Linked DNA regions of Homo sapiens. The protein of the gene in region 1 purifies or fractionates together with the protein of each later gene. This does not show direct contact. Each region holds a gene or a part of one and is shown on either strand. Other genes may lie near its edges. The genes, in order: RBM26, CRCP and SRFBP1.

The links.
Region 2: the proteins of RBM26 (region 1) and CRCP fractionate together in Homo sapiens (co-fractionation; one large-scale study listed by BioGRID). This does not show direct contact.
Region 3: the proteins of RBM26 (region 1) and SRFBP1 purify together in Homo sapiens (co-immunoprecipitation; one large-scale study listed by IntAct). This does not show direct contact.

The regions. Positions count from the first base shown.
Region 1 is NC_000013.11:79,322,606-79,326,342, reverse strand, and holds part of RBM26 (RNA-binding protein 26), read left to right. Parts: intron 1-3,737. UniProt on the Homo sapiens protein: May be involved in the turnover of nuclear polyadenylated (pA+) RNA.
Region 2 is NC_000007.14:66,135,171-66,138,907, forward strand, and holds part of CRCP (DNA-directed RNA polymerase III subunit RPC9), read left to right. Parts: intron 1-3,737. UniProt on the Homo sapiens protein: DNA-dependent RNA polymerase catalyzes the transcription of DNA into RNA using the four ribonucleoside triphosphates as substrates.
Region 3 is NC_000005.10:122,020,975-122,024,474, forward strand, and holds part of SRFBP1 (serum response factor-binding protein 1), read left to right. Parts: intron 1-1,395; coding exon 1,396-1,433; intron 1,434-3,500. UniProt on the Homo sapiens protein: May be involved in regulating transcriptional activation of cardiac genes during the aging process. May play a role in biosynthesis and/or processing of SLC2A4 in adipose cells.

The DNA.
Region 1 (3,737 bases):
TACAGTTCACTTTTAAAAATATATTTTAATGGAATTTTAAAGTACATGCATAACTCTTGAAGCACTGCCATAGCATACTTTAAAAAGTTATTTGCATTAATTATTCGTACTGTTTAAAAGCAGTACAAAGCAGATAATGTAGTACAATACAGTTCAGAAATAGACCTAAGTTTATACAATCATGTGCCACTTAAGAGGGATATGACCTGAAAAATGTGTTGTTAGACAATTTCATTGTTGTGTACACATCACAGAGTGTATTTACACAAACATAAATGATATAACCTACTACACACCTACACTCTATGGTATATAGCCCGTTGGTCTTAGGCTACGAAACTCTGGCATTGTGTTAACTATACTGAATACTGAGGCACTTGTAACACAATGGTAAGTATTTGTGTAGGCAAACATATCTAAACATAGAAAAGGTACAGTAAAAATAGGGTATAAAAGATAAAACATGGTATACCTGTATGGGGTACCTACCATGAATGGCATTTGCAGGACTGGAAATTGCTCTGGGTGAGTTAGTGAGTGAATGTAAAGGCCTAGAACATTACCATCGTATTTTATAAACTCGTACTTTAGACCTTATAAACACTGTACACTTAGGCTATACTAAGTTTATAAGAACATTTTATCTTTCTTTAATAATAAATTAACCTTAGTTTGCTCTAGCTTTTACTTTTAAACTTTACAATTTTTAAAAACTTTTTGACTCTTGTAACGCCACTTAGCATAAAACAGACACGTTGCACAGCTGTACAAAAATACTTTCTTTATATCCTTATTCAATAAGCTTTTGTCTATTTTTAACATTTTTTTATGTTTTACTTTTTAAACTTTTAATTAAAAACTAAGACACAAACACATACATTAGTCTATGTCTAAACATGGTCAGAATCATCAGTATCACCGTTTTCTACCTTTACGTCTTGTCCCACTGGAAAGTCTTGAGGGGCAGTAACACACACACAGCTGTCATAGGCAATGTGTGTATTATAGGCTGAGGCCTACGATAACAGTTCCTTCTTCTGAAATACCTCCTGAGGAAACTGCCTGAGGCTGTTTTATAATTAACTTAAAAAAAATTAGAGTACACTCTAAAATAATGATAAAGAGTATAGTATAGTAAATATGTAAACTAGTAACAGTCGTTTGCCACCATATTCAAGTATTATGCTGTACATAATTGTGCGTGCCATACTTTTATATGACTGGACTGGCAGCACAATCGGTTTGTTTACACCAGTATCACCATGTGAGTAATGTATTATGATAGTTATAAGGTCACTAAGCAATAGGAATTTTTCAGGTTTATTAAAATCTTAGGGGACCACTTTTGTATATAGTCATTGTTGACCAAAACATTGTTCTGTGGTGGCTGACTTTATGAGGATTTTAATGGATCACAAAGGAGTTGTTTTAAATCAAGGAATAAAACAAGTTATTCAGTAAATGATGTTGGGGCAATTGACTAGCTATTTGGAAAAAAGACAGCATTATGTCTTTTTTAAATATCCAAATAAATTAAATTGGATGAATTTTTTTTCTTTTTTTAATACATAAAACATTTAATACATGCTACAAAATTCTTTTTTTTAAATAGTAAAATCCTAGGGATTTAAAAAAAATAGTCTTAATATTGAGAGGGCTTTTTAAGGTATGGCACGATATTCATAAAGGAAAATATTGGTAAATTCCAGTACATGAAAAATTTAAAACTTGTTGATGACAAAAACAAAAGAACAACAACAACCCCTTTCTCTCCAATAAAAGGTGCATCATAAAATCAAAATCCAATCGGGGAAAATATTTTGCCCAAAATATCACCAAACTTCATTCAATTAGAAAAATACAAGCAGGCCAGATTGTGAAAAAAGTCAAACATTTCACTTCTAATAGAAAGTCACACAAGATGTACAAATACACAAGATTGTTCATATCTGTAGAAATTGCTTTAATTATGCTAAATATATAATATATATGGCCATTCAAGAAAAGTGACATTTATTGGTATGGACATCGAGAGATATTTATGAAAAGAATTGGGTTAATAATTTAACCATGAAGTTATAAACTAGTATGTTTCCGTATACATACCATACATATTTATATACAGAAGTTCTTTCAGTATGTGTGTAGAAAAATATATGTAGGATTTAACTCCGAATTCCTCACAGAATAGTGGTTATCTCTTAGGGCTAGGGATAATCATGGACTGCTTTTTTACATTACGTGGCCTGAAATTTTGAATCTTTGTAAAAAGTGAAATGGGTGGGTTACAGAAGGAATTGTTTAAACTTTAAAGATTTTATGTTGCAATTACCTGAAATATTGGTTTCTTGAACTTTTCTAATATAAAACAATAGTTTTATCAAAATGAAAGTAATTATGGAATATGTTTCTTATAACATCAGAAGTTCTTAGTTTTCCTGAGTAAATTTACATCTTTACAAAGCAAAAACTCAGTTCTTTCAAAAATTTACACAGCCTAATTCTCAAGTTTGTAATGGAGCAATGTTAATAAAAAGTTTGTAAATCATTTTGTAATTAAAGTTGAAACTTTAGAAAGTTGTAGCCTCATCTTATAGATTTGAGGAGCTGTGTGCTGAATATAGAGATGTGTAAAGTTAGATCATCAGAAATTTTTGTCAGTAACTTATTTTTGAAAATGTCAGTAACTCTTTTGCTTTTTAGGTGAATTTTTTTTAGCTGAATGTAAGGATGAGTTTTATGAGTAGGTATTTTGCATTAAACAGTTGGAATTCCTTATAGAATATGATACATTTTTATGTAACAGTGATAGCTTCAAAAAATTGCAAATTGTCCTGGAACTAAAATACATATAAGTACTTTTTAAAAAAATTCTAGTTGTATGACATTGTGACAAAAATTCTCTGAGCAGCATTTGAACAGGCATGAAATCTTTTAAATTTATCATAAATTTATATGTGCAGGTTTAAAATTTATACCTGGGGATTTTAATACCACACAACTTATGTCAAATATCATTGAATATGTAATTGTTTCTACATTTCACATTATGCTGTACTTTGAGATTGTATTATAAATCTTGTGTGAGTATAAGTTATTTGGCAATATGTTGCTAACACTGATTTACCTTAGTTCATGTTACTCTAATTTGAATGCAGTTTCCAAACCAGCCACTTAATATAGCAAGTACTTAGACATGACTATTTTTTAAGTTCACGTTTTATATTCAGTTATAAAAGTTTGGTAGGAAAAACTGTTTTTCAATAGAAGAGTTCAGAGGGGTTTTTTTTCCTTTCATTGAGACACTTATATTTTGTTTTAGTTTTATAATAAACATTTTATGGTAGTTGGTCATTTGATGTAATTTGAAAATAATATACTTTACACATGCAAAATTATTATTAAAGATTAATAATTATATACCATTTGTAAATGAACAGTAATTGAAATAAAATATATTTAGCATATTGATCCTAATTTAGACATTGATTCAGACATTAAAACTAGGATCTTGAAGTACCTTGGGATTGTCATCTTAAACAGCAGTTGTCATTGTGTTATAAACATGTAGACATATTTCTTTTAGTCAAATATTGGCCAGTAGTGAAATAGCTATATTTTATTATGAGAAATTATTCTTGTTTTCTTTTTAAAGGAATTTGCAATTACTAGTCTGATTGTAGGAGTAAATAACCATAAAAAGTAAAGTGTAAATTATAATAATAGTAAATTGAATA
Region 2 (3,737 bases), on another chromosome or scaffold:
GTGCCTCCAAGCCAAAATTGGTAGAACCAATAGTTCTACTCTTAAAGCAGGACCTCTCTAGCCTCCCATTATCTAGATGAAAATGAGCTTACTAATTTAGAAACACAAGTGAGTATATTCTAGGCTAACCAAAGTAATTCTTCTCTAATTATTGAGAACATTAAATGTCACGAGCTGATCTCAAAATATTAGTAAAATAAGTTAAATTGTTTTGAAAGGAAGGAAATGTGATAATGTAGAAATGGGGAAAAAACAAGACAGAATTGAAATATTATATTAATCAAGTACTAACCCTGGTTTGAATGGGTAAATGCAGAAGACCTTTCTTCCTTCTTTTTTTATTTATTTATCTTTTTTTTCAAAATTATACTTTAAGTTCTAGGGTACATGTGCACAACGTGCAAGTTTGTTACATATGTATACATGTGCCATGAGGAACAAATCTTAATGGGGTTTAAAAATCTTTTCTTGGCCAGGTGTGGCGGCTCATGCCTGTAATCCCAGCACTTTGGGAGGCTGAGGTGGGTGGATCACCTGAGGTTGGGAGTTCTAACCAGCCTGACCAACATGGAGAAACCCCATCTCTACTAAAAATACAAAATTAGCTGGGCGTGCTGGCACATGCCTGTAATCCCAACTACTAGGGAGGCTGAGGCAGGAGAATCGCTTGAACCTGGGAGACGGAGGTTGCGGTGAGCCAAGATCGCGCCCTTGCGCTCCAGCCTGGACAACAAGAGCAAAACTCTGTCTCAAAAAAAAAAAAAAATCTTTTCTTGGAGTCCCAGTTTGTATGACATATCGCATCAACCCCACTCCCAGAATTCAGACCAAATTGGATGAAAAGTAGGGTTGACAAGTTAAAGTACTTTTTATAAAGTTGATCAGTGAAGTCTTTTGACATTTGTGTTTGCTTGAGGCAAAAGTGGCTTGATCATCTTCTGTGAGTTCTTGTAGTTTCCAGTTCCTTTTCTTGGTCTGGAATGAGTTCAACCTTTTAAAATTGAAAACGTCATACATCAAGAGTTTACATGAGAAGAAAACTAGCCCGTTTTTTTTTTATTGGTTTGTTTTTTTTTGAGATGGAGTTTCACTCTTGTGAGTTCATGCTGGAGTGCAATGGTGCAATCTCGGCTCACCGCAACCTCTGCCTTCGGGTTCAAGTGATTCCTCCTGCCTCAGCCTCCACAGTAGCTGGGATTACAGGCATCTGCCACCACACCTGGCTAGTTTTGTATTTTTAGTAGAGACGTGGTTTCTCCATGTTGATCAGGCTGGTCTCGAACTCCCAACCTCAGGTGATCCATCCACCTCGACCTCTCAAAGTTCTGGGATTACAGGTGTGAGTCACCGTGCCTGGCCAATTTTGTATTTTTAGTAGAGATGGGGTTTCACTCTATTGGCCAGGCTGGTCTTGAACTCCTGACCTCAGGTGATCCTCCTGCTTTGGCTGCCCAAAGTGCTAGCATTTCAGGTGTGAGCCACCGTGCCTGGCCTATGTATACATTTTTGAATTGACTTGTTGATATCTGGAACAAATCCTGCTGAGATTCTGATTGGGATTGCCTTACATCTATAGGTCAGTTTTGGGGGAGAATTGACATCTTGACAATATTAATAATTCAAGATCGGACGGGCACGGTGGCTCACACCTATAATCCCAGCACTTTGGGAGGCTGAGGCAGGTGGATCACGAGGTCAGGAGTTCAAGACCATCCTGGCCAACATGGTGAAACCCCGTCTCTACTAAAAATACAAAAAATTAGCCGGGTGTGGTGACGGGGGCGCCTGTAGTCCCAGCTACTCGGGAGGCTGAGGCAGGAGAATCACTTGAACCTGGGAGATGGAGGTTGCAGTGAGCCGAGATTGCGCCACTGCACTCCAGCCTGGCGACAGAGCGAGACTGTCTCAAAAAAAAATTTAATAATAATAATAATTTAAGATCAGTCAAAGGTTAAAAAAAAACAACCCGCCAATACTGAACCTTCTAGTCCATGAAAACAGTGTAGCATACAGGTTCTGCACAAATTTTTTTAGATTTATACCTATTTCATAATTTTGCGTGCTATTGTAAATGGTGCTCATTTCTAGTTGTTGATTGCTGATATAGAAGTACAGCTGACTTTATATTGATCTTATGCCCTCCAGCCTTGATAAATCCACTTATTAGTTCTAGGAACTTTTTTAGTGTATTCTTTAGGATTTTCTGTGCAGAAAGTCGTGGTATTTGCAAACAGAGTTTTACTTCTTTCTCATCTGTATGGCTTTTCCTTCTTTTTCTTATTTCATTGCCCTGGCTGGGGCCTCCAGGATGATGTTGAGTAGGAGTGGTGAGAGCAGACATCCTCATCTTGTCCCTGATATTAAGGGAAAACAGTCAGTCCTTCACCATTAAGTATGATGCTAGTTTAGGTTTTCCATGAATGTCTTTTACCAGGTTTAGGAAGTTCAGATTGCTGAGATTGGATGTTGAATGTTGTCACTTGCTTTTTCTATATCTATAAAGCTAAAAAGATTTGTAGCCTTTTGGCTGTATCTTTTTGTTTATTTTTGTTTTTAGTAGTTACTGAAGGGATCCCTACTAGGTTACTAGTAGGGTTAATAATATGCATGCCTGACCATTTATAGTCCAGAGTTAATATTTTACCAGTTGGTGTATATAAGTCTCTTTACCTTCTTTTTGTGTTATGGTTGTATTTATAACATATAATCTACATACATTGAAACATATAATCTGCATACTATTAGTAGTGTTTTTACATTGACTTTCTGTATTCTTACATATTTTAAAGAACTTAAGAGAACAAAAATAGTCTTTTTGTCATCATTTCTTTTCCTCTCTATTCCTGAAGTGCCCTGCGTCCTTTTTATCATTTACTTCACCAGGAAGAACTGCCTTTGGCACTTTTCTGAGAACAGGTCTCTTGGCTACAAATTCTCTTATTTTCATTTAGCTGAGAATGTCATTATTTCCTTTCATTCCTGAAGGATAATTTCACTGGGTTGATTGATCTTTTCCTTCAGAACTTTTAAGATGTCATTTCAGTGACTTCTGGCTGTCACAGTTTTTGATTAGAAATCTGTGATCAGGCTGGATGCAGTGGCTCATGCCTATTATCTCAGCACTTTGGGAGGCTGAGGCGGGAAGATCACTTGAGGCCAGGAGTTTGAGACCAGCTTGGGCATCATTGTGAGACTCCATCTCTATATTTTGAAAAATAATTAATTAAAAAAAAATTTTAATCCGCTATCACTCTAACCCTAATGTGTCATTTTCCTCTGGCTGCTGTTAAGATTTTTTTTATCCCCCTCTACTCCTACTGCTTCACTTCACTAGCCTGGGCGCGGTGGCTCACGCCTGTAATCCCAGCACTTTGGGAGGCCGAGGCTGGCAGATCACGAGGTCAGGAGATCGAGACCATCCTGGCTAACACGGTGAAACCTCGTCTCTACTAAAAAAAAAAAAAAAAAAAAAAATCAGCTGGGCATGGTGGCGGGCGCCTGTAGTCCCAGCTACTCGGGAGGCTGAGATAGGAGAATGGCGTGAACCCGGGAGGCAGAGCTTGCAGTGAGCCAAGATGCGCCACTGCACTCCGGCCTGGGGGACAGAGCGAGACTCCGTCTCAAAAAAAAAAAAAAATTTAAATAAATTTCAAAAAAGATTTTCAAGTCTTTGGTCTTCAATAATTTGATAATGATATATTTCAGCTTTTTTTTCCCCAGTTTATTTTTGCTGAGCT
Region 3 (3,500 bases), on another chromosome or scaffold:
GCAATGCCACATTTGCCTAGTTTCATCAGAAAATGAGATGTTATAGCCAAATAATATGCCAGCTAATTTAAATTTTATTCCTTCACTTATCAAAGTTTTGAAACTTTGAAATCTTTTTTGATGAAAAACTTTTGAAAATGTTTCATGTATCTTTCTAAACAGAACTTTCTGAAAAGAATATGGTGTTTTTTCTTGATGATCCAGGACCATTATTGTAAACATCAGTCATTTTACTGTCTAGTACCATTTCAGTATATAAGGCTGCTTGCCCTTAAACTGAGTTTCTCCATACTGCTTTTTATTTGATGATGTTGCTGTCTCCATCTCTGTTGCTCACCACTTTTCATAGCTGTTCTGTTATAAAACAGTAAGTTTAACTTTATTTGTAATTCCAATTTGATAAAGGGTATCTTCACATTTTAGAGTGAAGGTTATGGTTAGCTAATTTCTTCAGTAACAGCTATAAACTGTTTTTGCATATATTTACAAGTCAGGGATAGTCTTTAATGAAATAGAAAAATGTGATGTAAAAATTTTTCAAAAATGTCACAGTATGGCAAAGACATAAAAACGTGTGGAGTGTTGAAATAATTAAAATATTTACTTATATTTTCCAAACTTGCCTCAAAAAGCTGCACTTTTTTCCACATTTGAAAATGGCACACCACTATCCCTTTACCACAAAATATAAATCTTTTTTTTTTTTTTTTTTTTTTTTTTGAGACGGAGTCTCACTCTATCACCCAGGCTGGAGTGCAGTGGTGTGATCTTGGCTCACTGTAACCTCTGCCTCCCAGGTTCAAGCAATTCTCCTGCCTCAGCCTCCTGAGTAGCTGGGATTATAGGCGCATGCCACCACGCCCGGCTAATTTTTGTTTTTTTTTTGTTTTGTTTTGTTTTCTAGTAGAGACGGGTTTCACCATATTGGCCCGGTTAGTGTCGAACTCCTGACCTTGTGATCCACCCTGCTCAGCCTCCCAAAGTGCTGGGATTACAGGCGTGACCCACCGTGCCCCGCCAAAATGTAAATCTTAATTTTTGTTATATGAGAGTCATTCTTCCTGTGAAAAGACTTTAGAAATTCTTTATATAGATAATCCCGAAGTGTAAAGGCAAGGTAACCAAGACAAGATATTTCCCATTACAAACAGAATTCTCTTTAAAGGTGGTGAGGGAAATAGGTCCTCATGTGTCTGTAGTAACACTGGATTCTAACAAACCTTTGTTTGATACAGCTACAACCTGGGACTTTCATAATTATTTTATTGTTTGCTGGTGTGACTAAGGAGTATAGTGGCCCTTTGAATTAGTTTTATCATCAATTTTGTTATGTTTTTTTCTTAAGATCAGAGGATTTATCTTTAAAAAGTCATAATGGTGTTTTTCTTCTTTTAGAAATTTCAAAGAACAGGCTCCAAAAACAAGATCCCTAGGTATGTATTCATAGTTGCCTGACCTTCATATGCAATTAAGCTATGTTTTACCAGAGTAAAAGAATGAGAAATTGTTGTTGCTTAATATAGCCTGAATGAATTATGTACCCACAGAAATGTTAACAGAGCATCTTACAATTATCAATATAATTTTTTGTTGTTGGTTTTCTTTTCTTCTGTGTCCTGCCAGAGGGAAAGATATAGACAAAATTTATCAGGAAATATTATGTCTATTTAACTTATCTCAAATTAAACCAACACTTTTTTTAAGTAAATTATGCAAGTTATATCTTAATTATTAGTGATCCTAAACGCTAATGCCATGCCGTTAAACATTGAATAACAAGTATATTACTTTCTTGGGCAAGAGTATAATCAGAATATTTTCAGATTAATTCGTAACAAATCTAAGTTTCATGTATTTGGGTAGAGTGACTTCTCACACAATCCTAGACTTTCACTAACTTAACATAGCAAAAATTCATTTCTCATTCACATCACAGTCCACTGTGATGAATTAGCAGAGAGGCTGTGTTCCACATAGTCATTCAAGGATCAGGCTTCTTCCATCTTTTGGCGTTTTCCTCCTCCAGGTTCCAAATATTCTCCATTTGCCAATAGAAGGGAATGGAGTACATGGAGAATTTTGCAGGTGTTTGTGAGCAAGGCCTGAAAGTAGCAGAAACCAGTTCTACTCACATATCATTAGCCAGAATTCAGTCACATGACCCCATCTAGCCACAGGGGAGCTAAGAAATGCAGTCTTACTATATATCTAGGAGAAAAGAGGAAGTGGAATTTCGTGAACACATAACTTTTTCTTCCAGTGACCAGACTTTCTATCACTGGATGGCCATTTCACTTTTCCTCCTACACAGAGCACACTTACCTCCTTCCCAAGGCAGCCAACCCAAAGTCACATCCAGTCACTGCATCTAGCTCAAAGTCCAGGATCACTGGTCATGGAGTATTTTCCATCAAATCTCATGGATGAGATTCTTCAAAGTCTGGTGACCTTTGTACCAAAAAGAAATTCATACCATGATATACCATGTATCGAGTAGCAGAACAGGGACAAAGTAATGACAATAAAAACTCTTGATAGCTTAAGGAAAAAATGGAAGGCACACAACAGGTCTACTATCTGAAATTCTGCTGAGCAAAGATTATGAAGGCTCTGAGAGGAACTTCTTTATCCATTGTTCTTCATGGTCCGTGTCTAGGGAGGGTCTTTGTTTCGTGGCCACATCTGAGGTGGGTATTTAACATGATCTCTTTGGAGTTTGCCCCAAGTCACTGGTACAAATATAAAATGATGAAGATTGTACAAAGTTCAGCAGAGGTTTTTTCCATCCCAGGCTTGTGATTTCTTTCACTATACACCTCCTCAAAAACTCAGTGGATTTCTGACCTCTGTTTCCTTCAGTCCGTCTGTGGGCTAGTTACCGTACTGAAAATTCTTTCTTTGAGCTAGTTCTCAAACTTGTCTTATTTGTTTGTGTTTTGTTTTATTTTTCCCACTTCCCGCTCTCATTCAGCATCTACTGCATTGAAAATTAATCAGATTTGGATGGGAGTGCCATACATTTAGTCTTATCTCTGCTCTAGGGCTGAGTTGCTGTGGGCAACTTTTCTTAGACTTACAGGTTACTGTTTGGGAGTCAAAGGCTTTTCTAAACCTTAAGTTCCCAAATATCTAGATTCTTTTGTTCTCTCTGTTCTCTTTTGTGTAGTGCATTGTCAAGGACAGCCAGTAATACGCTGATCTTTTTATTCTTTCCAGCCAGTTACCTTTGTACAGCAAACTCCATAGGCTTGTGGCCTGCTTGCCAAGTTATCACTGACAACAGTTTTACCTATTTCTTTGGCACATGGGTTGCTTACTTCTCATTCTCAGTTATCTGTTTCCTTGCTACCCACCACTGAACTGCTAAGCCAATGCCAAATTTTTATGTTATTGTAATGGTACTTCAGAGTACCAATTTTAGTATTATTCATAGTAGACTACCTGCTAAATCTCAGTGGTTTGTCATCTATCAGTCTGTCTGCTTCTAGGAATTTTATTCT